Linked DNA regions of Homo sapiens. The protein of the gene in region 1 purifies or fractionates together with the protein of each later gene. This does not show direct contact. Each region holds a gene or a part of one and is shown on either strand. Other genes may lie near its edges. The genes, in order: TCF7, RBFOX3, DCAF4 and MAN2B2.

Region 1 (7,825 bases):
AAAAATATTTTGAACACTACAATAATCTTTTTCTCAAGACTTCTTGCAGTGTTACACTAGAATATGTGATCTTTGGATTCTGAGAAACCAGTGGCTAAAGTAGGAACTAAAGGCTTTTTTTGAGGGGTGTGTGAATACATGGACAGCCCTTTTTTTTTTTTTTTTTTTTTTTTGAGATGCAGTCTCCCTGTTACCCAGACTGGAGTGCAATAGCGCCATCTCGGCTCACTGGAACCTCCGCCTCCCGGGTTCAAGTGATTCTTCCGCCTCAGCCTCCCGAGTAGCTGGGATTACATGCGCGCACCACCACGTCCGGCTAATTTTTGTATTTTTAGTAGATACAGGGTTTCACCATGTTGGCCAGGCTGGTCTCAAACTACTGACGTCAGGTGATCCACCTGCCTCGGCCTGCCAAAGTGCTGGGATTACAGGCGTGAGCCACCGCGCCTGGCCCGGCAGCCCTTTTTCTTTGGATTTAGGCAAAAAACAAAAATTAAATTAAAGACTTGTTTTTCAAGGCTGAGGGTTGAAGCTTGGCTCAAAAATGGGTTAACGTAGGCTATGGTGAAAACCTGTTGTCCACTACTGGAGGTTTTCTGGGCTCCTTGATCTAGTTGTAATGGTCCTCTGTCCCGCAGCCCCATGGGGAAACTGGAGCCGGCCAGGCGGACTGAATGCTGAAAGACAGGCTCTGGCTGTCATGAGGTTTTGGGTTTGCCCTCTCAAGCTGCCCAGGAGCTGGCTGGACTGCCATAGATGAACTGGAAATGGAATTGTGAAAAAGGCTCTGTGAATGGGGAGGGGTGCACACTGGATTTGGGCCATGACTTCTTTGAACTGTTGACTGCAGCTGCTAGTGACAAGCCTGGGGCCAGAGCTTCTTAGGCTGGTGGGTTTCTCAGGGAACACTTCCAAATAATTTGAACTAGAGCTAGATACACCCTCCCCTCCCCAATTTGCCTGATAAGGTAGTGTCAGATTATTTCTGTTGCTTAGGTTGATAGGCCTAAACTTAACCTATTCCATTCCCCTTCCTGCTTCTTGCAAGCTCCTGAGATCATAGTAAGGGGCTTCCTCTGGTCCAACTTATGAGTAGCAGCTGGTTTTGTTTTTGTTTTTATAAACAGAGCTTCTCCATTTCCTTAGAAGAGCTGTCATCTTGAGCTTTGTGCTTGTGACCATGCTCACATGTTGTTTGACAAACCAGCTCATTCTTGGTCCATGAAGTGTCTGAATGGGGAGGGTGTGGCAGTGGGGGATGGGGGAGATGGGTAGAGAAGGTAGCTAGGCTCAGTTCAGCCCATCTCTGACCTATAGCAGAAAAGCTAGGGAGGCAGAGGCTTCTGGCTGGCAAGACAGATGGTACAAAGAATAGATGCAGGCAGCCATAGGTACAAGGGATTCCCTTAATTAGATGACACATCAAGACAGATCTGATTCCCACCACTTGGAGCAGTTTGAATCGATGACCCCAGGTTCAGGCAGAAGTCCTGCAGCCTCTGAAATCTTCAGGGTCTGGACCCTGAGATGACGTTAACAGGACCCCTGGCCAGTTTCCATGAGATCTGGGTCTCTGTCACTTTCAGGGGGTAGGCTCCTGGAGGCGGCCAGGTGTCCTGTGCCTGCTAGGCCACCTGTCTCTGAGATTCCTGTTGCTGTACCTGTGTGCTCTGCAGGGTGCTGCGGGGGGCCTGTGGGGGCCCTGGGGTTGGGAGGCTGAGAGCAGTGGAGAGACCTGGGGATGTAGGTGCCGGCTCCGCAGGGCTAGTAAGCAGTTCTGTGGGGAAGCGGGGCAGCAGATGGTATGAGGGTGAGTCCTGGGGAGCTGGGGACCCGGGGCAGCCTAGAGCACTGTCATCGGAAGGAACGGGGCTGGGGCAGCGGCCTTCTCCGGGTAAGTACCGAATGCATTTCTTTTTCCTCCTAGGAATAGTGAAGAGAGTTATCTGTAAACAGAGGGTGAATTCATAGTCATACACCACAACCAAAAAATGCTGCCTTTGCACAGGCCTGGCTGATTCCTTGTCCTCTCTTCCTGGGACTTGGGTGGTAAGTCAGTGTCCTCAGACTGCCATTCTGCTTGGTCTGGCCCAGACCTAGGACAGGTGCAGTTCCCAGAACAGCCACAAGGTGGCAAAGGGGCCTTTTGTCACTAGGCCTATGGGCTGTCATCTGTCTTCCAAGGGAGTCATCTCTCCTGTCTTCCAAGGGAGTCATCTCCCAGTCCCGGCCTTTGAGCTTCTCCAGATGTGTTTGTGGGACTCACATCTGCACCAAGGCAAGGGGCCGCAATGCCTATGGCTTCCTTGCCCAGCCATCCCAGTCCTCAAGCTGGGCTAGAGGAAGAAGACATGGACAGTGACTCTTGTCCATTACCATCCTTGAGTTCTCTGGGCCAGTTTGTCTCTGATGGAATGAATGGAATAGAACTTCCCCTGAAGACAGGGTTGTTTCCCACCGTGCATATGTATGTGGATACACAGACACACCCCAAACTCCTCCTTGCCCTTGGACAGGGAGTGTGGTGGGTACACTGAGAGGCTGGACAAGTGTTCCTTAGAGCCAGTGGCCTTACTGCCTGGAGTACCCTCTATCTTAGCCCTGCCAGGCCTGGCCTGAAACTGACTGAGGAAACTTTAACCACTTGTTGGGTAAACCTTGTCACACCCACAAGTATTTCTCTGTTGTATGGTGAAACACATGAGCCCTTTCCCTCAGACAGCCCAGGGTACCCCCTGGGTCCTCTCCCCCAGCCTCTCCAGCCCTTTGGTATCAGTAGGTACAAGATAGCAAGTCATAAGGCTACCTGGCAACCAGATGGTTCTGTGTTGTTGTCACCTTGCTTTTTCAGATTAAGGGCTCAGGATGGTACAGGCAGGGATCCCATCTTGAAGAGGAAGTGAGGGAGCCCATGGGCCATAATGACTTTGAGGCCTGGTAGAATGGGCTCCAGGCCCCCTTAGTGGTGGCTGAGCTGTCTGTTTGCTGAGGACCTGCTAGGCCCACTGGCATCAGAGCTGCCTTCTTGAGTCTGTCCTTCCTTTCTGGAACATTCTGTGTCTTTCTCTCCAATCCTCCTGCACTTAGACCCAAGTGGTCTTCTCCACGCGCTGTGTTCAGTATTTACTACTATTCTCAGGAGGCCTGGGCTCCCAATCTGCTGAGTATGCTAGTGGGCTGAGGGGCCAAAGGAGTGGGCTGCAGGCCCAGTGGAACATGTGCAGAGTCAGGGAAGCAGCTTAAAGCAAAGGGAGAACGATGGTGGGGACAAACCCACCTGCACGGACCACACCAATCCGTCTGCTGGTTGAGGCCAAAGCGAGCACGGCATTTCTTAGGCGAGCCAGGGTCTGCTCACAGCCATGCCAGAGGGGTAGAGCAGGGCAGAGGGCGAGCAGGCAGCGGGGCAGAGCAGGGCCCAGAAAGAAGAGGTAACATCAGTGTTAGCCAGTTATAGACACCCTACAGCCCCCATAGGCAGAGTGGGCCTCTCCATGGCACAGCCAGCCCCAGTGGGAGCCCAAGAGCCCAGAGCCAAGATATCAGGAAAGGTGGGCACCCAGGTACGCAGTAGAGGCAGTGGGAAGAATGGGAGGGAGGGAGTCCTGTCAATCTGGCTCATCTCTGTGGCTTGTGGGGCCCTTGCAGCATGGAGGCTGCAGAGGGGCCCAAGGAAGACCATGGAGATCCAGCCTTTTATGCCCTAGGGCCACCCACCTCCTCCCCAACTCCCTACCCATTTTATCCAGTTTTTCTTCATTCTTGACCTACATTCCTTCAAGGGATAAGGCTGAAGGCTATACCTTATGCTGTTCTACACACTTGCAGATGGAAGGAAGGGCCTATTCTTTGCCTTGGAAAAAGGGCTAGGAACTCTGCCCTGCTCTGTCCCAGTCCTAGCCTCCAGCTTCCCTGTGTGGGGACAGCACGGCTGAGGTGGTCAGGGATGTGGAGTCTCAGTTACCAGAGAGGCAGGAATTCACCCTTAGGAAGGAGGCCTGCAGCAGGGTGTGGGCTTCTCTACATAGAGCACTTTGCACTGCCATGAAAAATGTTGAAGTGGGGGTGATAAATTGCCAGGCTCCAGCCAGTAGGCTGTGTGTCTACTGGGCCTAGTCATGGGGCCTAGCTCAGCCTCTCCCAGTCTCAGCAGAACTAGCCAGGACATTGTTTGGGCTAAGCATCAAACCATACAGTCAGTTCTTTGCTGGTTTCTCTGGTGAGTGGAGCTAGCAAAGGTAGTGGGTGCAAGGCAGAGGAACGCACCATCTACTCCAATTCTACCCAGCAGAAGCCAGTTCTGCTGGGTTTCCCTGGGACTTAGTATAATATAGCTGTTTCTTGCATGGGAATTTGACTTGTGAGATGCAGGCCTTGTTTTCATAGGCCCCAGGCCCTGAAGGCTCCTAGCTGGGTACCGCGTTCCTCCCTTTGGGTCAGAGGAGGGCTGCTCTTGAAATGGGGACATGGAGAGGAGCCTCCACTGCTGCTGAGAGAAGGTCTCACCTGTGGTGGATTCTTGGTGCTTTTCCCTCGACCGCCTCTTCTTCTTCCCCTGCAGGGAACAAAAGGAGGGATGCTCAGATCTGGGAGGCAGACATTGGGATACCCACAGCCTGCTGCCTAGCTTGGGTAACCCTGGGATTCTGGGCGTACAGGCCCCTCCTACCTTGGGGTGCTGGTGTTTCTTGATTGCTGGTCTTGCTAGGCTGCTATGGAGTGCATTTAGAAGCTCTTCCCTCACCCCAATCTGGTCTCCAGTTTGAATGGAAGGAGGTGACTTCCAGACCCCTTTCTCCCCTTCTGCCCATGTGGCCCAATCAAATGTTGGGTAACAGCTCATGTGTGAGCATATTCTGGAGTGGAGAATAGGATGTGGGCTTGTCCTCTTCTGAGGCAGCCATGGGAGGCCTTGGACCCTCCGTGCCCTTCCTCATCGGTGCCTTCAGGACAGTAGTTCTGCGTTCCTTACTGAGATTGTGGCCTGGGGCATGGTATCTCAAAGGGTCCCCTGCCCACCCCTGCTGTGTGTCACTAGGCACTCACGTAGTTGTCCCGCGCTGACCAGCCTGGGTATAGCTGCATGTGCAGCTGCCTCTCCTTGCGGGCCAGCTCATAGTACTTGGCCTGCTCTTCTCGCGACAGCGCGTGCCACTGCAACAGGGAAGAGGGGCAGGTGGGGTGCATCAGGGAGTCAGCAGGCTGCACCAGGCTGAAGATGGTCGGGGAGCATCCCTGCCAGCCCACCTGCCCATGGTCTCACCCTGCGGCCCAGGATCTGGTTGATGGCAGCGCTCTCCTTAAGTGTGCACTCTGCAATGACCTTGGCTCTCATCTCCTTCATGTACAGCATGAAGGCATTGAGGGGCTTCTTGATGGTTGGCTTCTTGGCCTCCTTCTCTGCCTTGGACTCTGCTTGTGTCTTCCTGAGGGGCACAAATCCAGATTGTTCAGGAGCCCCCCGAGTGCCCACCTAATTGCAGCCTCCTCCTCTAGCGTGGGCCTAGAGTGTGCCTAAGTGTATGATACCAGAGTTTTCTAAGTGGAATCTTTCCTAGCTGCCCCCAAATGGGTGAGCAGACAGCTAAGTAACTGTTCCTTATAGGAACACTACAGACAAGTGGGAAAAGCATGTGTTAAGGACTTCTGAGCCCCTCCTCTGTTGGCTCAGAAAAATCCTTGTTCCCCATCCCACCCACCCCCTCCTACTTCTGAGGATCAAAAACATAGCCAGAGGCACGAAACAGCTTAGGCAGGGACCTCGTGGCAGTCCTCAGGCCTGGTGGGGAGGCATGTGTATCCTGACTGACACACCCCCTGCCATCATTGTCTTTTCACTCACAGGTTGCGGTCGAAGGGCTGCAGCTCCTGCTTCCCTGAGGGGGGCACAATGGCCGGGTGGGGGATGGCTGCTGGGTGACCAGGTACACCAGAACCTAGCATCAAGGATGGGTGGGTGAACCTGGAGGCAGGAAGAAAGTTAACACTGAGCCAAGAATTATGGGCCAGACCTTTGGACACACACAGAGGCCCCTGCATAATACATAACTTGAGGACACAGGTGAACAGATAGATACTCTATCCTACTGGCCTAGACATAAGTACACAGAGATAAATACAAATACCTGCTCCCAGCACACTACACAGACACACTGCAAAAATCTACATAGATTGCCATTCAGATGGTTACTACATAGGTCCCAAGTAGCTTTTGAATCTGTCCCCTTCTCACGTCCTTCCCCTACCAACCCAGCCTCAGGAGCCTGTGGCTGCCCTGTGAGGCCTCATCCCTCTCCTGCTTGACCCTTCCAGGCCTCTCTCCACACAATAGCCAGAGTAACCATTAGAGACACCTGAATGTTCCTGGCCTGCTTCGGCTGAAATTCCCCCAGCGTCCAAAGAATAGAACCCAGGCTGCTCCCAAGGGCCTGCACAGCCCTGCATGAGCATCCTGCTGCTGTTGCTAGCCCCTTCTCTTCTCCTCTGCTTCCTGTCCCTCTCCGTTCCCCGGCAGCCCCAGTTATGGCTGTTCCCTTGTTTTCTTCTCGCAAAAGATCTATTACTCTTTCCGCGAAGCTCTCCCTGACCCATCAGGCCTGGTGAGGTCTCCTTGGGGCTTCCCCATCACTCAGCTGGCCCATTAAGCTGCCGGTGCCATGTCTACACTTGCTATACTGGGCTGTGAGCTCCAGTGGGCAGCAAATGTCTGTGGAATCCCCTGCCATTGCATATTTGCACTGAGTCTGTCACTGAAGGAGTGACCTAAGTGAAGGGATCCATGTACACACACCTCCCACTTCACTTTCTTGCTATTCTGTGGAGACCATTCTGCCCCTTACTGCTTGCACAGGTATTATCCCTGAGCCAGCAGCCCCTAAGGGTCAGAGGTTGGGGACTTAGGTAAAAGGTGCTGTCTCAGCTTGGGCAAAGCTCAGGGGATGCCCAGGAGAGTCCTTCTAAGTAGGGATGAAGAACAGAGGTGAGTGCACACACATCTGCACACGGGCTGAGCCACATATGCCTGTACTGTCCTGGCCTCTGTGGTGCTCTGCTGCACGGTGTGGCCCAGGCTGAGGCCTCTTGGCACTTGCACTAGCTTCATTCTCAGGCACAGGACAGCAGGGGGCTGCAAAATGACAGACGGACAGATGGACAAACGACTAACACAGGGCAAGCACTGGCCTGGGCATGGCCTTGTGTGGGCTCTGAAGCCTGGGCAACAGGAAGCAGGAGCCTAGCTGCAGTGTAGGGGACTCACCTGGGGTAGGGGGCGCCAGGGGCTGCAGTGGGGGCAGGGAAGTGCTGTCTATATCCGCAGGAAGGGGACAGGGGGTAGAGAGGAGGGCTGGGCCTGTGGTTGGGAGAGATAGCTGTTAGCAGTCTGGCTGCTGGCCAGACACGAGGAAAGACTTCCCTACCTTGCTAGGCAGGCCTTGACCCATCCTGTGAGACAGATGGGCCTCTGCTGGAATTTCAAGCATCTGCCACCAGAGGGCAGCTTGTGCGGTTTCCCTCTATAAACTTGTATGGGTGCTTGAGGGATGGAAATGGTATCCTTCTCCTGGGACCCAGCTTAGCAGGCCCCTGGGCCCCTCCAGCCTGCTTCTGTTTCTTTGACGGTATAGGGCTGATATCTGTCCTGGGGCCATTGCAGCCACTGTTAACACTGGATTGTTTTGCACCACTTTGCCTGCTTCAATTCCTGGTCATCCTTCAGGTCTTCCTTAGCTAAGTGACCCTTCCTCCTCAAATCCCTGAGATTCCAAGCTGGATGAGGTACCTCTCTGGGCTCCTACAGTCCCTAACTAGAGCACTACCAACAGTG
Region 2 (7,825 bases), on another chromosome or scaffold:
CCCTTGAGCCAGTGAGCCCCTGACTTCAGTCACTTCCTGCTTACCCCATGGGGAGGCTGTGGAAACCCCAGGTGGAGACCGCATCTCTGATTCCCAGTCCCCCCACCGCCCCCCGCAAGCCCCGTGCCCACAGTGGCTGTCTGTCTTGGAGGCAGACGCTTGAGTGCTTCCTCCTGGAGCAACCTAGCCTAGTGCCTTTCCCCTCAGACATCTGGCCTGTTGGTAGCTGAGCTCCACCACTCTGGTCTGGGGACCGCTTGTACCCCCTCCCTCCTGGCAGCCCCGGCTCCATCTCCCTGAAGTGTGGTGTACAGGGTGCCGTGGCCCAGCTCTGCTCTCTAAGGAGCTGAGAGTTCCCTGCACAGACAAACTGCTGAAGGGAAAGTCGTGAGGGACACAAGTGTCACATTCTTGGGGGCAGTGTTCCTGGTCCCTCCTCGTTGACCCTCTCTCTTCTCTTGAAACCCTCCCCAGTATTTACCACATTCTTTTTGGGGTGGAAGTTTGTTTTCCCTGCAGACGAGCTCCATGAGGACACCATCCCCCTCCACGTAGCACTGAGTGGAACACACCCCCTCCCCCCACCCCGTCAGGGTCAGCACACTGTGGGCATATTGAGAGGGTTGCCTGTTGTGTTCCAGAAGCTTCCTTCTTAACAAGAAGGAGGGGTAGGCCTTGCAGGCCTTGCAGGAGGGGAGGGTGCCTTGCAGATGGGACCTCGGTACAGGGTGCCCATGTAGTGTCTGGGAGGAGGTGGGAGGCCGTTGCTGCCCCTCACCTGCCCCCCTCCCCCACCCTCCTCCCACTCCCCCTCCCACGCTCTTCCCTAGTTACGGCAGAGTCTACGCAGCTGCCGACCCGTACCATCACACCATCGGGCCCGCGGCGACCTACAGCATTGGAACCATGGTAAGGAGCCCAGGCCCGCCCAGCCCTGGGTGCCAGTCCTAACAGCTGGGCATGGGTGGTGAGGCCCTTGGGGGAGAGGCCGAGCCCTCTGACCAATGCCTTGGTCCCGGAGACTTTGGAAGGACCACGGCCTGGATGTGAGTTAGGGTGAGGGGAGGGCTGGCCCCTCACGCCCTCTCAGTTGCGGGGAAGCAGGTTGAATGGCTGGTCAGCCCACCGTACCATCTGGTCCTCTGGAAAGCACCCCAATGTGCCTGATCCGTTTCCCTGAGCTCCCTCACTATAATAAAGTCCCGTTGAGGCCCCTCCATTCCCATTTCCACCAGGAAAACCTCAGAAACCAAACCAGGGCCGCCTCTCCTTCCCAGCAGAGGCTCCCAAGGCCCCGGGGCTGTTTCTGCCCACACCGCATACCCACGGCCCACCCGCACTGCTGCAGCCCCCTCGCATCGCATCCGAGAGGGGAGTGTGGGTTACCGGTTGCTTCTCACCAGGCTCTAGCTCCTGGCTTCCTGGGGGCTCCTGGCGTCCTGGGGAAACAGTGCCTGCTCTGCCCCAGCCTCCTCCCTCAGGCTGTGGGGTGGAAGGGGCGGGGCGGGGAGGTGCGCGGCGTGGCGTGTCTCTGTGTGTGTGTGTGTGTGTGTGTGTGTGTGTGTGTGGCCAGCTGTTGACACGTGCAGCCCAGCTCACTCTGCACCCAGAGCTGCTTCCAGCAGACACCTGCCTCCTGTACCCACTGGCCCCAGCCCCGGGGTGTGAACACGGGTTTTAGCTAGCTTGGCATCCAGCATCAAAGATGAAAACATCTTGGGAGAGTGAGGAGGGAGGAGGTTCAGAGGCAATATGGATTTTTCCCATCTTTCTTGGTTTTGATGACTCCCTCCAATTTTTTTTTTTTTTTTCAATTTTTAACGAGCCTCAGACACCCCCAGCAGCCTGTGGTGGCTGTGGGCAGCCACAGGCGCGGGTCTGGTGCGGCCCCACCCGGATGGAGGTGTGATACCCTGGCTCTTGGGCCCTCCGTGCAGCTGCAAGCTAAAAGCTTTCATTAACGCACGGAGGGTTCCCTCTTGTGTTTTCACTTTGTATTTTTAAGATTTTCTATTTTTCCCCAATTTTTCTTCTCTTGCACTTGCTGTGTTGTTCTTTTCTGGGAAAACTGGGTGGTGGGAGGGTGGGAGGCCCCTTCAGAGCCTTCCCTGACTGGAGGCAGCCCAGGACATGGGAGAGCTGGAGCATCCAGGACCCGCTCTCCCCAGTAGGACAGGGCTGGGCCTCAGGTGGGCCCAGGAGGACCCAGAGACCCCCCCAGAGAGCAAGGCTCTGAACACTATGCCCAGCAGGCTTGCCTCTCCCAGCGTAGCTGGCTTCAGTGGCCCCAGGCTCTTGAGCCAAGGCCCAGGAACCCGCCAGGAGGTCCCTCAGTGCTCTGAAGATGCCCCGTGCCACCCTGCTGGGGTGCGAGGAGGTGGGGCTCAAGCTGGGACCCCCCCTCTGCATAAGGACAGTGAGAGGCCAGGCCTGAGCCCAGAGAAGTGACCCAGACATAACTCAAGCTGTGACCTAGAAGCACTGTTGGCCATGACCCCAGAGCACCCCACACTGGCCCAAGACCACTATGTCAGAGGCAGGTCCTACTCTTCCTGTTGCCATGACAACCCAACTCCTTTCTCCCCAAGGAATATAGGGGGAAAGAAATCGAGACTTGGCTATTTCTCTTTTTGTTTTTCCTTTTTTTTTTTCTTTTTGCTTTTTCCCCTCTTCCAAAAGACGGTACTGATTGGCTGTTTTTCATCTTTGATGTTGCAGGCTAGCCTCTGCCGAGGAGGGTACAGCCGCTTCACCCCCTACTAGCAAGAGACCCAGCCCCTAACAGCATTCACACTGACTGCCTATTACACACCAAACCCAACAGCCCAAAACCAGGCACAGCCACCAGAAGACAGTGCACCCCTCCCGGTCAGCGACACGCACGGCTGGCCCCCTGCAACTCTAAAATCTATAGATTATTTCTCTCCAGCCAGTTGGTCTCCCCACCCCACCTGTGCTGGTGTGTGTGTCTTTGACCCTGGTTTTTCCTGTATGTCTGCAACCGTGATTTCCTATTTTGACTTTGTTGATGTTGTACTACCCAAGCCATTGCAGGTACGGTGTGCACACCGTGGGGTCCAGGCTGGGCCAGGAGACCAGGCAGCCCCCAACCTGGGAGTAGCGGTAGCGCCCTATGAGGGCAAGAGCCACATTTCCTGGCCTCCCAGGCTGCACAGAACAACAGAAACGCCTGGCAGGGCCTCCCCCAAAGCCACCCGACCAGCCCCGTGCCATGGCCCTAGTGTCCAGCACCCTGACGCAGGGAGGGAGGGGCTCCAGGCACCCAGTGTGGGTCTCCCCGGCCTGAGGGTGCTCCCGCAGGCCTTCACCCAGCCAACCACAGGAGTAGCCACTGCCCCTCCTCGCCCCATTCAGCTGAAACTAATATTTTTCATTAAATTTTATTGACGATATTTCTTGCCGACGTAGTCACAAGCGTGTCGCGTGGTGTGCAAACTGCTGTGGTCACGCCAGTCTCTGCGACTCCTTAGCACTGCTGCAGCAGAAAGTGGAAATGTGGAAAGGCACGTCCTGGTCGCTCCTCAGGGAGCCCCTTAGCACCGCAGGGCCAAGGCCAGGCCAGCCTTGCAAGGGGGTTGTCCTGGAGGCACAGCCTACTTTCCCTGTCCCCAAGCTTCGAAATGTCTTTATTGGGGTATATTCCGGAAGGAGGGGTCCTCAGCAGGCAGGAGAGCTGATGAGGGGCAGAATGCACCCTTGCTCAGGCCCTCCCCTGAGCGCAGGCCGGTCAGCCCCAGGTCAGTCCCCTCCCTGCATTAGGGAGACTGCAGGCAGGGCCCTGTGGCCTGCGGGCCACTCCTTCCTCAGCCCTGGGACTGGCCAGCCCGGTGCATGGCGCTTCTGGGGAGACACTGGCTGGGACCTCACTTGAGCACAGCCGTGGGCAGCTTGCTGGCCTGCCTAGGAAAAGCCAGCCAAGACAGGCACAGTCCTTTCCTGGCACTGGCCTGGGGCACACAGATCTGTACCTCCATGACAGGGAAAAGTAGCCTCAGGTTCTGAGTGTGCCACGGCTGGGCTCCTGGGGCTGGAAGGCCAGCTGGAGGGTGTGGGTTCCCCACCAGTGAGGGCTGAAGTCCTGCCGCCCACCAGGCCCTTGCCGTGGGGGGCCCGGCTCCCCCACCTCCCGTGGCCAGACCATCACCCTCTGCCATCTCATCCAGGCCGCCTCGAAGCCTGTGCTGGCCCAGCCTCTCCACTCACCCTGCCCTGCTCAGCTCTGTCTCCTCCTCAGGGCCCCAGGTGTCTCCTCCCATCCTGGGCTGCCTGGGCCCCATCCTGGGATCCACCCACACTCAGCCCTGGAAGATGAGGGTCCTGGAAACCTGGGGGGCAGGTGTGGCGGCGCCAGGACTTTAGGCCAGGGGCCCCGTGCCACGTGGTCCTGTCGCCTTCACACCTGCTGTGCCTCCCCCGAGAAGCTGCAAGTCCTGCCTTTCTGTTTCTGTTGTAGTGAAACCTTCCACCGTTTCCTTCTCGGACCATGAAGGGCAAAAACAAAAAAACAAAAAAAATCACAAAACAAAAAAAACAAAAAAAGATGTTAAGATCCAAGCAACAAAAAAAAAACCAACCAAACCAAGAGGCATCCAACCAAGTCCAAGTCCCGCGTCCTGGCCACACGCCCGCACCGAGGGAGCACGCCGGCAGGGGCGCCGAGGAGCGGCCCCAGGACAGGACGGCCCCACCGCGTCCTGGCTGGCAGCACAGTGGGAACACGCCCCTCCGTCTCAGGCAGTGGGGGAGTTGGAGGGGAAGGGGCCTCCCTTGTGGGACCCGTGGGGGGCTCTGTTTTCCATCCAGTCTTCCTTTCCCAGCCCCCAACTCCCAAGACAGACAGTGTGGAGCCCAGCGGCGGCGGAGCAGGCCCGGGCCTGAGCAGGCAGGCGCTGCTAGCAAGACTTGATCTTTGTGGCCAGCTGTGCCAGGGGGCCGGCGGGGCTGAGGGGTGCGGGCAGCTTTCATCCCAGGGGCTCCACTGGGCCCCGTCACCCTCCTGTCGCGTCCCCTGCGTCCCACCTCCCTCCTGCCCGGCAGTCCCGCCCGTGCCCCCAGCCTGGCGAGGAAGCCGTCCAACAGTAGCCCCGGGGCCAGCTCCCAACAGAAAGGGCTGACGTGGCTCCAGGACTCAGGGGCGCTCCATGGGAGGACGAAGGAAGCCCAGCCAGCCAGGAGCCACTCCTCACACCTCCAAGTGTGGCCAAGTGGGCCCTGAGGCCAAGGACTTACTTGCTCTTCCTGGCCATCTCTCCCTTTCTGGAGGAGGCCCGGGGCCTGTGTACACCAAGGCTGACCTCGTGCTGCCTGCTGGGACCCAGCCCTCCCTGCCGCTCCCCTGTGAGCCCAGTCCACCGTGGGCGCCCAGGGCCAGGGACGGGCCAGCGCCCGGCTGCATCGCGAGGTTGGGAGTCACAGTGGCTGTGGGCCTGGACGGGCACAGCCAGAGCAGGGGCCCATGGGAAGGGCAAGGGATGGGGAAGCCTGGGCCGGCCCCTTCCCTGCTCCCAAGGCAGGTGTCCAGGTGGCGGGAGCAGCACCAAGGACAGCCAGGCTTACCCGGTGGGAGGAGCAGGAGCAGAGCAGGTGGCAGGGAGGAACCCCTGGCGAGGCAGGGAGCACTGAAGTAGGGAAGCAGCAAAAAATACAGGCTCCCAACGTGGCTCCACTGTCTCATGAAGTGTCAAAAATTTAAAAATACACCTCACTTTCTATTCAGCATCAGCTATTGAAATGGAATTCTCCTTTTCTATTCCCGTTGTACATAGCCCCACGCCCTGCCTCCGGCTTTGTCCTCTGTACAGAGCCCCCTGTCCCCTCTGCTGTTCCGGACCCTTTTCTTGCAGCAGCTCAACCCCCCGACTCACTCAGATCCCCAGGACTGCAGCCGAGCCCCGGGCTTCCTTTCTTACCATTCTGTATGCTTCCAAGGTGTGACCATTCAAACTAACAGTATTATTAAGATTATTAATAAAGATTTCTTTCTTCAAACCAGGACAACTCTGTATGCTCTGGCAGCTCCCGGGCATGGTGGGTGGAGGGCATAGCGGCCCAGGGTGCAGGACGGGGGCCAGGACGGGATGCAGCCCTGCCTTGGCCTACAGCCAGGTGGCAATGGTGTCAGAAGGCCCTAGACTTTCCAGTCCCAATCCTCAAGTCCAGGCTGGTCGTCTGCATCCCACCCCAGGATAGGCTGGGTGGGTGGCAGCTCATGGCATATCTGTGCTGCCTGGCCTGCCTCTCGGACTCAGGTCGAGGCCAGCCCTGGTCCCTTCTTTCCTGGTTACAGCATGTGCTGGACACAGCGTGACCTCAGAGCAGAATGCACCCCAGGAAGCAGAAAGGTTAGAACTGGTGACCACACAGCTGTGCTTGGTCGACCCAGTGCAACAAAGAGCACGGAGCTGGGAGGGTGGGGGGACATGGCACAGAGGCATAGATGGCTGGTGCTCCAGCCAGTTCTGCACGCCTGGTGTAGCCTGAGTTGTTGGGGCCCACAAGGAGCCATGTTGCTTCAAGGTAAACCCACTTCGCCAGCCCCAGTCACCCCTCCTGGAAGGTGGGTAGGAGCTAGAGCACAGCTGCAAAGGCTCAGCTGAGCGGGGAGATGGGAAGACGAGTGGCAGAACCTGAACCCAGAGCTCAGAAGCCTGGGGCTGGGGCCAGGGCTGGACAGGGAGCCAGCATCCAGGGCCGGGCTGGTGCTGCCCGCGCCCCATCACACCAGGACTCGACTGCACGCTTCACATTGTCAGATCATTTATTTCAGCGCAGTTACACCCAGCAGAGGGGCACAGGCTTAAACGCCGGCATATTAGTTTTCCCGCACGCGAGCCCTGCATGGCGGTGGGCTGGGGAGCCGGGGCGGTGCGATTCTGCCACACGCCACGCTCTACTAGGCCCCCTTACTCCTAATTAATTGCCTGCTCACCAGACTGTGAGAAAATAATTGCCACTATAAATTTTCCCTCCTCTGCATAAAATATTCGGGGGAACCAGCACTTAAAAAACAGACTTCATGAAAGAAGGGCAGCAAGGCGTGGATGCTGCGCCCCCCACAACCCCCACTGCAGAGGACACAGAGAGGCCAGGAGCCCCTTCCTGGTTCCCCCTGGTTCCAAATGAGACAGAAAGGCTCAAAGAGCTCCCGGGAATGGTCACAGCTGAAAAAAAGTCGAGTGAGTGGCTACATGCGGCAGCCGCTTGTGTTCACCTGCCGTCCACCCAGGACAGTCCCCGGCAGCAGCTTGTGTTCACCTGCCCTCCACCCAGGACAGTCCCCGGGCTGGCTCCAGGCTGCAGGGGGTCAGCAGAGGGAGCCTCCTGCCCCATATCCTTGGCAAACTCACTTCTCCTTCTGGGACCACACAAGAGACATGGGAGAATGTTCCTAATTAGGCAAGAGCACAGAACCCCTAATCCCAGTCTCTGCTTGGCATGAGTACCCAGGCAGGCAAGGAAGATGGAGACAGGTGGATTTCAGCTCCTGGAAGGAGCCCCGGCTCAGAGTGGCTGCTGAGTACCCAGCCTTGCCCTCCTCTGACGTGGGAACGGGTGTGGCTGTGCTGCCACCTGGTGGCCTCTTCCCTCACTGCAGGGTGAAATGATGTGGATGCCAGCCCTTAGGTGTGGGCTCCAGCTGGGGTCACAGAGCATCCCAGCCCTCAGCACTGCCCGACATAGAGGGAACCCCTACCACTGGCCCTATGTGGCCTGGGGGTGAGAGACCCCCCCCCCAAAAGCGAGGGACTTCAGGCCACTGACACCGTGGAAGGACCACAACAGACCCCACCCCAGACCAGCCACA
Region 3 (7,825 bases), on another chromosome or scaffold:
ATGCAGGATGCAGGTCTTTCTTCCTGCTACCCAGGCACCGAGGACTCAAACCATCTCACCGTCTCATCACTGGGCTTCTTCAATGGGCTCTTGGAGGAAGAAGCTTTTCGTTTTTGCCAATCTTCAGTCCTTAGAAAAGTCCTTTTTGTTAAGAAAAGGCAGGGAGGGTTAACTAAGTTCTAAGAATTCAATAAGAAAAGGAAAGAGGTACCTTTTATGAAAAGGACTTCCAAGCTCTCTCAGCCAGCAATTTAACTCAAATAACTTTCCTGAGCATCTCCACACGGAACATTCAGCACTTCTCTCCTAGCAGCCAGAGGATGGGATCTGTGTACACTGAGTGTCACTTAAAACACCCTCATTAGATGCAGTAAAAAGTTACGCTTTACTCCCGTAAGTCAAATCCACATGGCTCTGGGCTGTGCCCTGCAGAATTAGCTGTAGGAGTAACAGTAAAGGTCCTGCCCGACAGCCATGAGCAGCCCCGGCGCGCCCCGGGAGCCCCCCAGCCGCGACGAGAAGGCCACACTGGGAATGTCGGCCTTGGAGGCAGGGTACGGGGAGGGTATGGTTCTCAGTAGGCGGGCATCGTGGAGGCTCCAGATTCTCGTGTAGCAGTCCTGGCCCACTAGGAAAGAGGAGAGACACATGGCAGGCTAGTGAGAGAATGCAAAGGAAAACTTACCTACATGTGGACATGGCTTCCCAAGATTCCTCAGGGCTGTGATTTCATGTGAGCCAAAACACAAACTCATTAACGGACAGTATTTCTACGGATAACCCAAGTCGCCCTGTTGTGCTAGAACAATGACAAGATGCCCTGGTTGGCTGTGTGATGCCATGAATGGCTCGGAGACATCCTGGCTAATGTCTGGGTATTCTGCTGCTCTTGATGTCACGGAACGTTCAAGTGCGAGTGTGGCCCACCTGGTCTAGGTGACATGCAACTGATTTCCCCCATTTTTTAGGGACAGGGTCTTGCTCTGTCGCCCGGGCTGGAGTGCAGTGGTGTGATCAGGGCTCACTGCAGCCTTGAACTCCTGGGCCCAAGCCATCCTTCTGCCTCAGCCTCCTGAGTTAACTGGGACTACAAGTGTGTGCCGCCATGCCTAATTTTTTTTTTTTTTGAGATAGGGTCTTGCTGTGTTGCCCCAGCTGGTCTTAAACTCCTGGCCTCAAGCTCCCTAAGTGCTGGAATTATAGCTACCACACCTGGCCTGATCTTTTCATGTTATAGTAAAAGATCTGTCAAAGTCATTACATCCTGGGGATGGGCTAGGTTGACAACTCTCCCCACAGCTCTTTCTGGTTTAATGCTTCAGTTCCTAGGACCGGTTTAAGTCTTCAGGGCTCCAGTTCTGAGGACTGTGACACACAACAGCATGGGTTACAGCAGCCCAGAAACATGATATACACTACTGGAGACCTTCAGCAGGAGAAGAGGACAGGCCTTGGGCAGTCATGGATTTCACATTTGTGATTCTGATCACTTGTGTGGCTCTAAGACCAGAAGTGCTATCTTGGCTGAAGCTGAATCCCGGCTGCAGTTTATTACTGCAGCTGGTAACTACCTGCATCTGCCTCTCAGCAAGGCTGAGCTCTCTCTATCATCCAGCTCACAAGAGCTCTTCTGTGATAAAAACAGGTGAAAAATCGACTTAAAAAGGAGGCGAAGTCCTGGTGTTGATGAGAATAGTAAATAAGTCTATGAATGTCCTAACAAAGTAATGCTTCCTAGCCACAAAAATGTTCCATGGGGTATAAGCCCTTTCTATAGGAATACCAGTAGAGGTGACAATTCTTGAAGACTGAGAACACATTCTGCAGTGTCAGCAGCTACTATTTCAGTGTGAAAGCATTGAGCCTGCACACTGTCTGATTACGCTATAGCCACCATCATCTGTAATCAACTGGTAACTCCCTTCCAGGGGGCTTAGTGGCCAGATAGCTGCTCCTAATCTGCAGATCATGGAGCCACAGGGATGGTAGTAAAGGGGCCACAAATCTTTTTTATTTATTTATTTATTTTGAGACGGAGTCTCGCTCTGTTGCCAGGCTGGAGTGCAGTGGCGTGATATCGGCTCACTGCAACCTCCGACTTCCTGGTCCAAGCAATTCTCCTGCTTCTGACTTCCGAGTAGCTGAGAGATTACAGGCAGGTGCCACCATGCCCAGTTAATTTTTGTATTTTAGTAGAGATGGGGTTTCACCATGTTGGCCAGGATGGTCTCAATCTCCTGACCTCGTGATCCACCCTCCTTGGCCTCCCAAAGTGTTGGGATTACGGGCGTGAGCCACCGCGCCGGGCCGGGGCCAAGAATCTTTACAATGACCATAACTTCTTTTCTCAGCATCCTCTGGTGGAAATGTGAGTAGAGACAACAGGGAGCCCAAGTTTTTGGATAAGATAGTTGCGTGGTGGAATAATGCTGGCCTGATGAAATCCACTCAAACTCCAAACCCAGGCTCCCCAGGACCTCCCCACCTGCCTGTTTCTGAAGTGACGTTTGCCCACTGACATGGGATGAGGCTGTCCACCTGGTGGACATTTATTTACACTCCTGATTACTAATATAATCTAATTCTACTTCCCTCCTAGTCTCCCCACCCAGCTGTCCACACTCCCCTTGATTCAGTTCTGTTTTGGGGTAACTTTTCCCTCTGCTGCTGAAGTTGCTGGGATCGCCCCTGAGAGACAGTATTTGATGGGGTGGAACTTCCCCTTCCTTCCTCAAGTACCTGCCACCAGGATTCCTTCTTCCTCGTGCACATGCAGGGGCAGGTAGGCGTACTCATTCACGTGGCCTTCGTACTGCCTTACGCACTTCGTGGTCCTCAGGTCCCACAGCTTGATCTGTGGAAAAAGCACCAGGGGCCATCAGGGAGGGGCCAGGGGGTACCATGGTGGTCCCCAAGTGCAAAGCCAGGAAGGCAAGGTGGTCTCCAGTGGCCTGTGCAGGTCATGAAGATCTCCATCTCGAATTCTTGAGCCTTGTTGTTCATCAAAAGCATGTAACCAGGCCGGGCACGGTGGCTCATGCCTGTAATCCCAGCACTATGGGAGGCCAAGGTGGGCAGATCATGAGGTCAGGAGTTCGAGACCAGCCTGACCAACATGGTGAAACCCCATCTCTACTAAAAATACAAAAATTAGCCGGGCGCAGTGGCGGGTACCTGTAATCCCAGCTACTCAGGAGGCTGAGGCAGGAGAATCGCTTGAACCTGAGAGACAGAGGTTGCAGTAAGCCAAGATAGTACCACTGCACTCCAGCCCGGGCGACAGAGCAAGACTCCATCTCAAAAAAAAAAAAAAAAAAAAAAAAAAGGACATAACCAGAGAATCCTTTTCACTTTTGTTTACGTCAGATTAGGCTCATATGGTCAACGAAGCAGTCCCCATGCAGGGCCTACAAATCACTTGGTCTTCAGCGAAATTCCCCTGCCTGGGGTCTTGGTGTGAGGACCTCTTCAGCAGAACCCTTTCACCTGGCAGGGCACTGGGCCACGAGACCCTGTGGCCTGAGAAAGTCCATGATCCCCTACCTTTCCAGCCATGTCTGAAGCCATCAGGTATTGCTCATCTTGGAGGATCCGCACAGAGGTCACTGCTGAATCATGAAACAGGCGGGTGGCCTTCCATCCCTTGCCTTGATTTCCACAACGCAGATCAATGGCAAAGATTTCCCCAGAGCGGCAGCCATTAAACAGCAGAGGAGCCTGTGGAAAGAGGGACTGCTCAGTGCCTGGCTATCATGACATCCCTCTGAGGCTGGGCAGGGCAGGTCCTCCTGATACAACCCCTCTTCCAGCCTCTGGGTCAGACGGTGTGATTAGACACGTGCTGGTCAGGGTTTGGGTCTCAATGGAGTTGGAAGGGAGGATGATTCCTTGTTAGTGGCTAGAAGAACCAGACCCCATGTGTCCTCCTCATGGGTAGCACGGAGGTCCTAGGAGCTGCCCCCCACCCCCCTGCACTGTCCCGTTTGGCCTTTCTCTCTGAAGTCCCAGAGATAGCATTCCATCTCCACCAAAAGCAGGTTAGTGGGTTCATTCACTTTTAAGGGAAGACGGCATTTTCTAGAGAAAAGTCTGTGAAATATAGTAATGACCACAATTTTTTTTTTTTTTTGAGACAGAGTCTTGCTCTGTTGCCCAGGCTGGAGTGCAGTGGTGTGATCTTGGCTCACTGCAACCTCCGCCTCCCGGGTTCAGGCAATTCTCCTCAGTCTCTCGAGCAGCTGGGATTACAGGCGCCCAGCACTATGCCTGGCTAACTTTCGTATTTTTAGTAGAGAAGGGGTTTCACCATCTTGGCTAGGCTGGTTTTGAACTCCTGACCTTGTGATCCACCCATCTTGGCCTCCCAAAGTGTTGGGATTACAGCCATTCATTAGCCACTGTACCTGGCCTGATTTTTTAAACATATAAAATATATAACCTGGGAGCTGTGAAGAATTGGTGTTTGGCTTATACATTTTAAAAATGGTTTGTCCTACTGGGTAAATCCAAGTACCCAAGAACTGCTCACAATACCTTTCCATGAGAGGTTGTGTAGAGCAACTCAGGCCAGCCTTTCTGGATCAACCAACTTTCACTCGGCTCAGACACCCTTACAAAGGAACCCACTGATCCTTTCTGATGCTCTTTCTCCCCTGTCAAAGAGTACTAGATGGCACACAGAGGAGTCCAATTTCAATCTGGCCAAATTTCTACATGGGGCAAACTTTTATATTCTGCCTGTCCCAATCCAACCAACCATGAGAGCAAACTGCTGGGCCAAGACATCACTGTTGGTCCCAAAGGACTGCCGGTGTCCCGTCACCACGTTGGTCAACAGGACCCGCCGAGACAAGCCTGGCGGAGACAGAGATGGGCTGGTAAGATTATGTCACATGTAGTCTGGGGAGAGGGACAACTACATGGGGTTTTAAGGCCTGTTAAGGCCTCTTCTCTGGGCACCTGGGGAGCCAGGCTCACCTGTACTGAAGCAGTTATTTGCTTGGATATTCAGGGACCAGGCACAGGACCAGGCACCAGGGATCCGGAAACTGCAGAGCATGCCAGGCCGGTCTATTCCTGCTAAGGGGATAGGAGAATGTAAAGTGTGGCTGCCTTCTAGGCAGGCCAGGGACCACTGGGTTCGGAAAACATCCAAATATGCCCATAGCTGCTCAGAGGGTCTATACCTTTGGCCCCATTCTGGGTTTTGTGGTTGCAAGAGAGACTCAGCTGGGATGCCTGGCTCACAAGTGGTTATTCCGAAAATGCATCTTTGTTAACGTTCCCAGTAGTCGTGTTTACAGTACGAATAGTACTGATATCAGGGAGGTAGTATACTGTTGGAGGTAAGGTGGCTCCGATCCTCGATCACCTACCAGCTATGTGATCTCAGGCAAGTGTGTGTGTATATACACACACACACACACACACACACACACACACACACACACACACACAAATAAATAAATAAATAAACTATATATATATATATATATATATATATATATTTTTTTTTTTTTTTTTTTTTTTTAAGACAGGGTCTTGTTCTTTTGCCCAGTCTGGAGTGCAGTGGCGTGATCATGGCTCAATGCATCCTCAACCTCCCAGGCTCAAGGAATCCTCCCATCTCAGCCTCCCAAGTAGCTGGGATCACAGGTGTGAGCCACCACACATGGCTAATTATTTATTTTTTGTAGAGATTGGAGTCTTGCTATGTTGCTCAGGCTGGTCTTGAACTCCTGGGCTCAAACGATTATCCTGCCTTGGCCTCCCAAAGTGTTGAGATTACAGGCATGAGCCACTGTGCTTCGAAAAAATATTTTTTAAAATAAACTTTTGCATTGATAGAACGTACAGATTGTAAGGATACAGTTCAGTGAGTTATCACAAACTAAATATAGCCATGTACCCACCACCCAGGTTAAGAAATAAAACAATCCATGCCAGGCGTGGTGGCTCACGCCTGTAATCCCAGCACTTTAGGAGGCCGAAGCGGGTGGATCACCTGAGGTCGGGAGTTCGAGACCAGCCTGACCAACATGGAGAATCCCATCTCTACTAAAAATACAAAAATCAGCCGGGTGTGGTGGTACATGCCTGTAATCCTGGCTACTTGGGAGGCTGAGGCAGGAGAATCGCTTGAGCCCCAGAGGCGGAGGTTGCGGTGAACTGAGATCGTGTCATTGCACTCCAGCCTGGGCAACAAGAGTGAAACTCCATCTCAAAAAAAAAAAAAAAAAAAAAAAAAGGCCGGGCATTGTGGCTCACACCTGTAATCCCAGCACTTTGGGAGGCCGAGGCAGGTGGATCACGAGGTCAGGAGTTCGAGACCAGCCTAACCAACATGGTGAAATCCCGTCTCTACTAAAAATACAAAAATTAGCCGGGCGTGGTGGTGTGCGCCTGTGATCTCAGCTACTTGGGAGGCTGAGGCAGGAGCATTGCTTGAACCTGGGAGGCGGAGGTTGTGGTGAGCTGAGATCGTGCCATTGCACTCCAGCCTGGGCAATAAGAGCAAAACTCCGTCTCAAAAAAAAAAAAAAAAAAAAGACAAGACAAGACATAAAACAATCCAGTACCCCAGAGGCCTCCCTCACATCCCTTTCCCAATTACTACCTCCCCAAAGGGTACTGTGAGCCTGACCTCCAACACTAAAAATTACTTTTGTAAGACAAATTCTGAAACTGTCTGCCTCAGTTTCCTTATCTGTAAAATGGTGGTAAGACACACTCCTGCCTCATAAGCTTGCTGTGCAATGAAATACCAGGCACTGGGCTAAATGTGCATGATCTCACCTAATTCTCCACGGATGTGGACTGAGAAGGCCCTGTCCACTTTAGAGAGGTTCAACATTCCATTCAAGTTGGCAAGGGGCAGAGCTGGGATTCGTGCCAGGTCTGCCTGAAGCCCACACTCTTAAGAGGCCTCTCACCCTGGTCTTATTGATCCTAATTTTCTGATAGACTGAAATGTAATATCCAGAATGCTGTCAGGAAGGAGGAGTCAAATTGCCTTAACGTAGGCAGACTGTTAAGTATCCCTGATAGCACCTGAGGTGCTTTGGACCTTCAGAGGTGTTTTCTGAATGATGTGCACGGGCGTCCGAATCTGTTCTGAGCTCACGCTGGTTTACATGCGTGTTAAGTCTGCTCTGGCTGCTGAAATGACTGAAATGGCCCAAGATGGGTAAAAAGGGGCAGATGCTGTAAAAAAAACACATGCTTCTGGTACTAACCCTGGGACAGGCTTAGGGAATCCTCCCACAGTGCCTCTGCAGCGGCCCCATACTTCTCTCTAAGCCACCCCCACACAGCTCTCGGGAGACAGAGGACAGATTTCTTTAAAGGAGGAGAACCCTGTACCTGGGTGACTATTGACGAACAGTGATGCTGGGAGCAGGGTGGCACAGCCTGGAGTCTCTGCGAGTCCCATGAGGCATAGCCTGGAAAAAGCTGTTAAGGACAGTTAGGCACAAGGCTCCCCTCTGGGAGGAGGCATGGACATTTACCCTTCAGAAAGTCATACGGCACACAACCTAGGCCAGAGTAACCCCCACCGTCCAGATTCAACATGCGTTTACACTGCCCACATTTACCTTCAGATGTTTTTTTTTTGTTTGTTTGTTTTTGAGACGGAGTTTCGCTCTTGTTGCCCAGGCTGGGGTGCAATGGCGCGATCTCGGCTTACCGCAACCTCTGCCTCCCAGGTTCAAGCGATTCTCCTGCCTCGGCTTCCTGAGTAGCTGGGATTACAGGCATGTGCCACCACGCCCGGGTAATTTTGTATTTTTAGTAGAGACGGGGTTTCTCCAAGTTGGTCAGACTC
Region 4 (5,226 bases), on another chromosome or scaffold:
CTGGAGCTACCATCTTCTTACAATACCCCAGGCCATGCTGATTGGTCCAGGCATGGGCCACCTGACCCCAGTAGGACCAATCAGAATCTTTCCCTAGGACTTTTGCACTTGGAACTGGAAAGTCCAAGTCTTAGGTCCTTTTGAGTGGGGAAGACAGAGCTGCTCTTTGAGAGCAGCCCCAGAGCTGTTCAGAGTCACATCCCAGGTGGGAGGTGAAGGAAAGTCTGCAGACAGAGAGAAGTGCAGGTGAGAGACGAACAAGGACAGCCTCACGAGGGCTCCAGGCCCTGAGGCCCAATTACACCCTGCCCTTCCCTTGGTTATGTGGGCCTCACCATACACTCTCCCTGGGGGCTCAGCTAGTTCAAGTTGGGTTTCCGTTACTTGCAACCAACAGAGACCAGAGTGAGGCCAGGTGGGATGGAGCTGACAACAGCCATGGGGCTTTCTCAGACATGGCCTCATCTCCCTTTGCAGGAAAAGCCCCAGCTACACAGAAGGAACCACTGACTGGTCTGGGAGCAGAACCTGACCCTGCTAGGCCAATCAGATTTCCTCTTCTGGGAATCTGAAGCAAGGGAACCAGAGGTGGCTCAATGGCCGTCCTGGGAGACATGGCTGTGAGCCTCTGCTCCTGATATGCCTAGAGCTGCCCTGCCCCATGCCTGTCTGGACCTTGTATCCAGCTCCTCCTTAGATTCCATGAGCTTCTCCAGGCTCTGCCCAAATAGCTGCCCCTTCAGGCTCTGTTACTTCCAAAGAACCTTAATTGACACCCCCTGGACCTGATCCCTGACCTCCTCCCAGCTGTGGTCTCACACTCCTCTACACCCACGAAACACCAGGCCCTCTATGGCATGGCTCCTTCTCCACCCTGAATCCTGGCTCTATACGAGCATGCCTCCCCTGTCCAACAGCCCAGGAAAACTCTCCTGGGTCCGGGCTGCTCTTCTGCATCTCCAGTGTATGGCACAGGCACACTGCAAGTGCTCAGTATATGCTTGTTGCATGGGTGAGTGACAGCCTGCCTGCTGGCTACTGCCCTGGGTTCTGGCTCTAAAACCAAAGCAGGGAGAACCTTAAAAGCACATGCTAATCAAAACCTCCATAGGTGAGTAGAAAAAGAAAAGAGTTTAAGGATTAGTGAGAATGGCAGCAAATTGTATCTAGGTCTTGCAGCTCCAAAAGACCATCTTTAAATGTAATCATTGTTTAATGTTTCTCATGTTCTGCTACTTTATAGAGACACAGAACTACATGGTTGTTGATCTGATCTACAGAAGCTCAGTGGAGGTACAGAATAAGTCCTTTAGGTTAGACTATAGATTAGAAAGACCCCCACCTGGTGACAGCACACCTAGATTCAGACCCAACTTGTCTTTTATTTTTACTTTTGAGACAGAGTCTCGCTTTGCCACCCAGGCTGGGGTGCAACGGTGCAATCTCAGCTCCCTGCAACCTCTGCCTCCCGGGTTCAAGCGATTCTCCTGCCTCAGTCTCCCGTGTAGCTGGCATTACAGGATTACAGGCATGCGCCACCATGCCCAGCTAACAAACCAGTCTTTTAAATGCTAAGCCTCCAGACCTAAAGTGACATGGTGACATAATGTCATATTAAGAAAGGAAAAGATACATCAGAGAAGAAAATGGAGAAGATACAGGGAAGAGGCATATGGTGAAATGGGTGAGTCCCAGCTCTGTACCTCCTAGTTGTATGACCTTAAGTGAGCCACTGTTTGCCCTCAGTTTGCCCATCTGTTAAATGAGGGGCTTGGGCTAGAGGTCCCTGAGGTCGCTTCCTGCCCAAAAGCTGCCCAGAGTCATGAGGGCACAGGCCCCTCCCAAGGCCCGCCCTGGCCTGGCTGGTGCTGAGGCAGTGATGATGTTACTCTGAAAGGGTGCCCCTTTACCAGCGAGGTCTCCGAACAGCACCACGGGCCTGTGCTGCAGCGCCAGTGCGCTCCTCTGGCGCAGGGCAGTGGTGAGGGACCAGGATCCCAGCAGAAGCCAGAGCACTGGGTGGACGACTGAGGTGTCGTTCAGCGTGAGGTTGTAGCCCAGGTCCCAGTCGAAGTTGTTCCACAGCCGCCGGTGGAGCATGACCTGCGGGAAGGCATTGTCCGAGAGGCCCGGCTTGCACCTGGGCATGCCTGTAGGGGGCCGCGAGGGGCTGCTGTAGGACAGACCGTGCCTCCTACCTCCACCTGCCCATTCCCTTGGCTGGAGATGCCATGTGCCCGCTCCGACAGCAACACAAGCCTGCTTTTGCCATCCTCCATGAAGGCCGACTGAACCATGGGGTAGTAATTCTGCAGACAGAAACATCGCCAGGTGGGCGATTGGGGCAAAGGGCAAGGTAGGTCAGGCATCACCCTCTGGCCACCCCAGCTGGTGCTCCCCATAGGCACAGCAGCAGCATGGGGCTGGGACCCTGACTTTGGAGACCAACAGACTGGGGTTCAGACACCAGCTCTGTGGCTTCCTAGCATACAGCTCAGCTGACATGGGTGCAGGCCCTGGCCAAGCCCTGGCCACGCATCATCTCATGGATCCTCAGAATGACCCTTTGATGAAGGAGCCATTTTACAGGAGAGGAAACCGAGGCACAAGCCAAGGCACATACTATTCTTGTCTGTGGTAGCACCAGAATTCAGACACCAGTCTGACTCACAGCCTGCACGCTCAAGCCCTGAACGGGCAGATACACAGGCTTTAAAAGAATTCTCTCTGGAGGCCGGGCGCGGTGGCTCACACCTGTAATCCCAGCACTTTGGGAGGCTGAGGCGGGTGGATCATCTGAGGTCAGGCGTTCAAGACCAGCCTGGCCATCATTGTGAAACCCCATCTCTACTAAAAATATAAAAATTAGCTGGGCATGGTGGCAGGCGGCTGTAATCCCAGCTACTCGGGAGGCTGAGGCAGGAGAATCGCTTGAACCTGGGAGGCAGAGGTTGCAGTGAGCCAAGATCGCTCCATTGCGCCCCAGCCTGGGTGACAGAGTGAGACTCCATCTTAAAAAAAAGGAAAAAAACATTCTCACTGGAGGCCTCTACTGGCCTCTACTGCTGCAATTTGATGCTTAATGGGTCCAGGAAAGGCGCCATTGGGAGCGTGCCTTGTGGGCATTGCAGGACATACCCGGGCGATGCTGTTGTTCACATAGGAAACGTAGGGCCTCCGCTGCATCTGGTAGCCGTTGTTGTCTGAGTAGATGACCTGCTGGCTGTTTAGGTTGGTGCTGGTCCTCAGGACAGCCTCACGGTTCAGCTCCAGGGGGCCGGCTTGGTACTCCTGCTCTATCCGGTGGCAGAGCAGCTCCCCGTCATGGCCCTGCGGCACATGGGTGAGCCGGGAGCGGATTGCATACGTGTAATTCTGTGCTGTCATGTTCCTGGAGGAGAAGGGAGCATCAGTAAGTGAAGCTCCAGGAACCTTCTAGATGCTTCCTTTTTGCTTCCCTTCCTTCATGTGGGCAGGGTGGGCAGGGCAGGGTACGCCGAAAGGCAGGGAGCCTTCTTGGGCCATGTGGACAATAGCACCACCCAGGACCCCGAGCGGCTGGGAGCAGCCTGGTTCCCCGACACCGCAGGGCTGCCATGCCGGGCCTGCCTTACGTCTGCTCTGATCATGGAAGAACAGGTGCTCTGTGGGCCCCAGGGTCTGTGGGTCTCTCTCCCAGCTCTGAACTTAGCTCCCAACCAACGTGACACAGCACACGCAAACGCAGCCAGCATGCAGACACCAGAGCAATTCATTTCTTCATCAGACCACGTGTCAACCACGGCCCGGAAGCTGGGGTTCAGAGCAAAGACAGACCCTCATTCACTGAGCTGCCTGCACGCGTGCGCTGACTGTGTGCCGGGCTGTGGGGGTCACCCCAGGGGAAGCACCTGTAGAAGTACTGCCGGATCTCAGTCACAAGCTGTCCCGCCACAATCTCCATTTCCACAGCTTCCCACGCAGGCACCGCGGCCTTGCCCGGTGTGAACAGGTAGTTATCGGAAATGGGGCCCTGTTTCACATCCCCGTTGACGTGGTACTCCAGGAATTCCTGGGTCACGCGCACCGTTCGGTTACTCTGTCTGCAGAGGCAGGAGAGAGAAGATGTCATTCTCATCCTGCACAAGGTCTTACAGACACCGGCTGGCAAGCCTCTCTCTCCAGATGCCATCTGAGTGGCCTGCGTAGCACTCACGAGGCCATGTGACTCAGCTCATCTAGAAGCCCTGAGACCCCACCCACAGCCAGTGTGGCCTTAGACTCCATGCTGTCCCAGAATGGGTCACAAACGAGGAGACGGACAGAGCCTGCAGACAGGAACCGTGAGCCGTCAGCAGAGGGCACCCCCAAGAGATGGAACTGGCTCACCCAGGCTGTGGTCTGCAAGCGAAACCAGTGCAGGAACGGGCTTTTGTCATGCTGACTCTGAGCTGTCCAGCAGGACACCCATGTGTACAGACCCCATGTCATGGGCCAGAGCCTTCACTGACTTCACCTGGTTAAATTCTCCCAACCCCCAAAGGCAGGGACTGTTAACCCATCCCACTCCCGAGGCATCCGAGGCTGGAAGTTGTGACATCATGTACCCAAGATCACACATCTAGGAAGTGTGCAAGCCAGAACTCAAATTCAGCCCCGACTTTAAATTCTGTGCTCCCTCCCTTCTATTAGGATGTTTGTGTTAGGACAGAGGATGGGAGAAGAGCAGGAGGGGGTCAAGTATTTTAATTGTAAAATGCAATATTTGGCCTAACCAAGTGCACAAGTGATGTATTTGTATCTGAGTCTGGCCTGGCTGTGGGCGGACAATGAGGTGGATGGCCTCTGCACCCACTTCTCTGTGGGATTGTGGTGAGGGTGGGGAAGGAAAGGGAGGCAGGCTGTGGAGGGTTCTACTGAGTGCTGGTGGAGGAGGAGAAAGAAAAGAATTGAGGCCTCTGGCCCTGGACCCCTTCCCCGCACGATCCTTTTAAAAAGCTCCCCCAGGGGCCATCAAAAGAGTAAAAAGACAAGCCATGGAATGGGAGGAGGGATTTGCAAATCATAAATCTGACAAGGGACTTGTAGCTAGAATATATAAAGAACTCTTACAACTCAATAATAAAAGACAAGCCAATTTAAAAATAGGTAAAGGATCTAAAGACACATCTCACCACAGAAGATATGCTAGTGACCAGTAAGTACATGAAGAGATGCTCAACACCATTAGTTAGCAGGGAAATGCAA

The links.
Region 2: the proteins of TCF7 (region 1) and RBFOX3 purify together in Homo sapiens (affinity purification with mass spectrometry; one large-scale study listed by BioGRID and IntAct). This does not show direct contact.
Region 3: the proteins of TCF7 (region 1) and DCAF4 purify together in Homo sapiens (co-immunoprecipitation; one large-scale study listed by IntAct). This does not show direct contact.
Region 4: the proteins of TCF7 (region 1) and MAN2B2 purify together in Homo sapiens (affinity purification with mass spectrometry; one large-scale study listed by BioGRID and IntAct). This does not show direct contact.

The regions. Positions count from the first base shown.
Region 1 is NC_000005.10:134,140,322-134,148,146, reverse strand, and holds part of TCF7 (transcription factor 7), read right to left. Parts: intron 7,352-7,825; coding exon of another isoform or gene 7,259-7,351; intron 5,963-7,258; coding exon 5,843-5,962; intron 5,427-5,842; coding exon 5,264-5,426; intron 5,155-5,263; coding exon 5,047-5,154; intron 4,556-5,046; coding exon 4,507-4,555; intron 3,351-4,506; coding exon of another isoform or gene 3,136-3,350; exon of another isoform or gene 2,407-3,135; coding exon of another isoform or gene 2,296-2,406; exon of another isoform or gene 1,947-2,295; coding exon of another isoform or gene 1,924-1,946; coding exon 1,844-1,923; 3' UTR 1-1,843. UniProt on the Homo sapiens protein: Transcriptional activator involved in T-cell lymphocyte differentiation. Necessary for the survival of CD4(+) CD8(+) immature thymocytes. Isoforms lacking the N-terminal CTNNB1 binding domain cannot fulfill this role.
Region 2 is NC_000017.11:79,087,535-79,095,359, reverse strand, and holds the end of RBFOX3 (RNA binding protein fox-1 homolog 3), read left to right. Parts: intron 1-830; coding exon 831-909; intron 910-2,718; coding exon of another isoform or gene 2,719-2,763; exon of another isoform or gene 2,764-3,413; intron 3,414-4,474; coding exon 4,475-4,477; 3' UTR 4,478-6,015; downstream 6,016-7,825. UniProt on the Homo sapiens protein: Pre-mRNA alternative splicing regulator. Regulates alternative splicing of RBFOX2 to enhance the production of mRNA species that are targeted for nonsense-mediated decay (NMD).
Region 3 is NC_000014.9:72,951,415-72,959,239, reverse strand, and holds part of DCAF4 (DDB1- and CUL4-associated factor 4), read right to left. Parts: intron 7,443-7,825; coding exon 7,363-7,442; intron 5,080-7,362; coding exon of another isoform or gene 5,077-5,079; coding exon 4,978-5,076; intron 4,855-4,977; coding exon 4,757-4,854; intron 3,718-4,756; coding exon 3,544-3,717; intron 2,855-3,543; coding exon 2,740-2,854; intron 629-2,739; coding exon 435-628; 3' UTR 1-434. UniProt on the Homo sapiens protein: May function as a substrate receptor for CUL4-DDB1 E3 ubiquitin-protein ligase complex.
Region 4 is NC_000004.12:6,607,963-6,613,188, reverse strand, and holds part of MAN2B2 (epididymis-specific alpha-mannosidase isoform 1 precursor), read right to left. Parts: intron 4,083-5,226; coding exon 3,891-4,082; intron 3,392-3,890; coding exon 3,139-3,391; intron 2,310-3,138; coding exon 2,199-2,309; intron 2,104-2,198; coding exon 1,911-2,103; intron 1-1,910.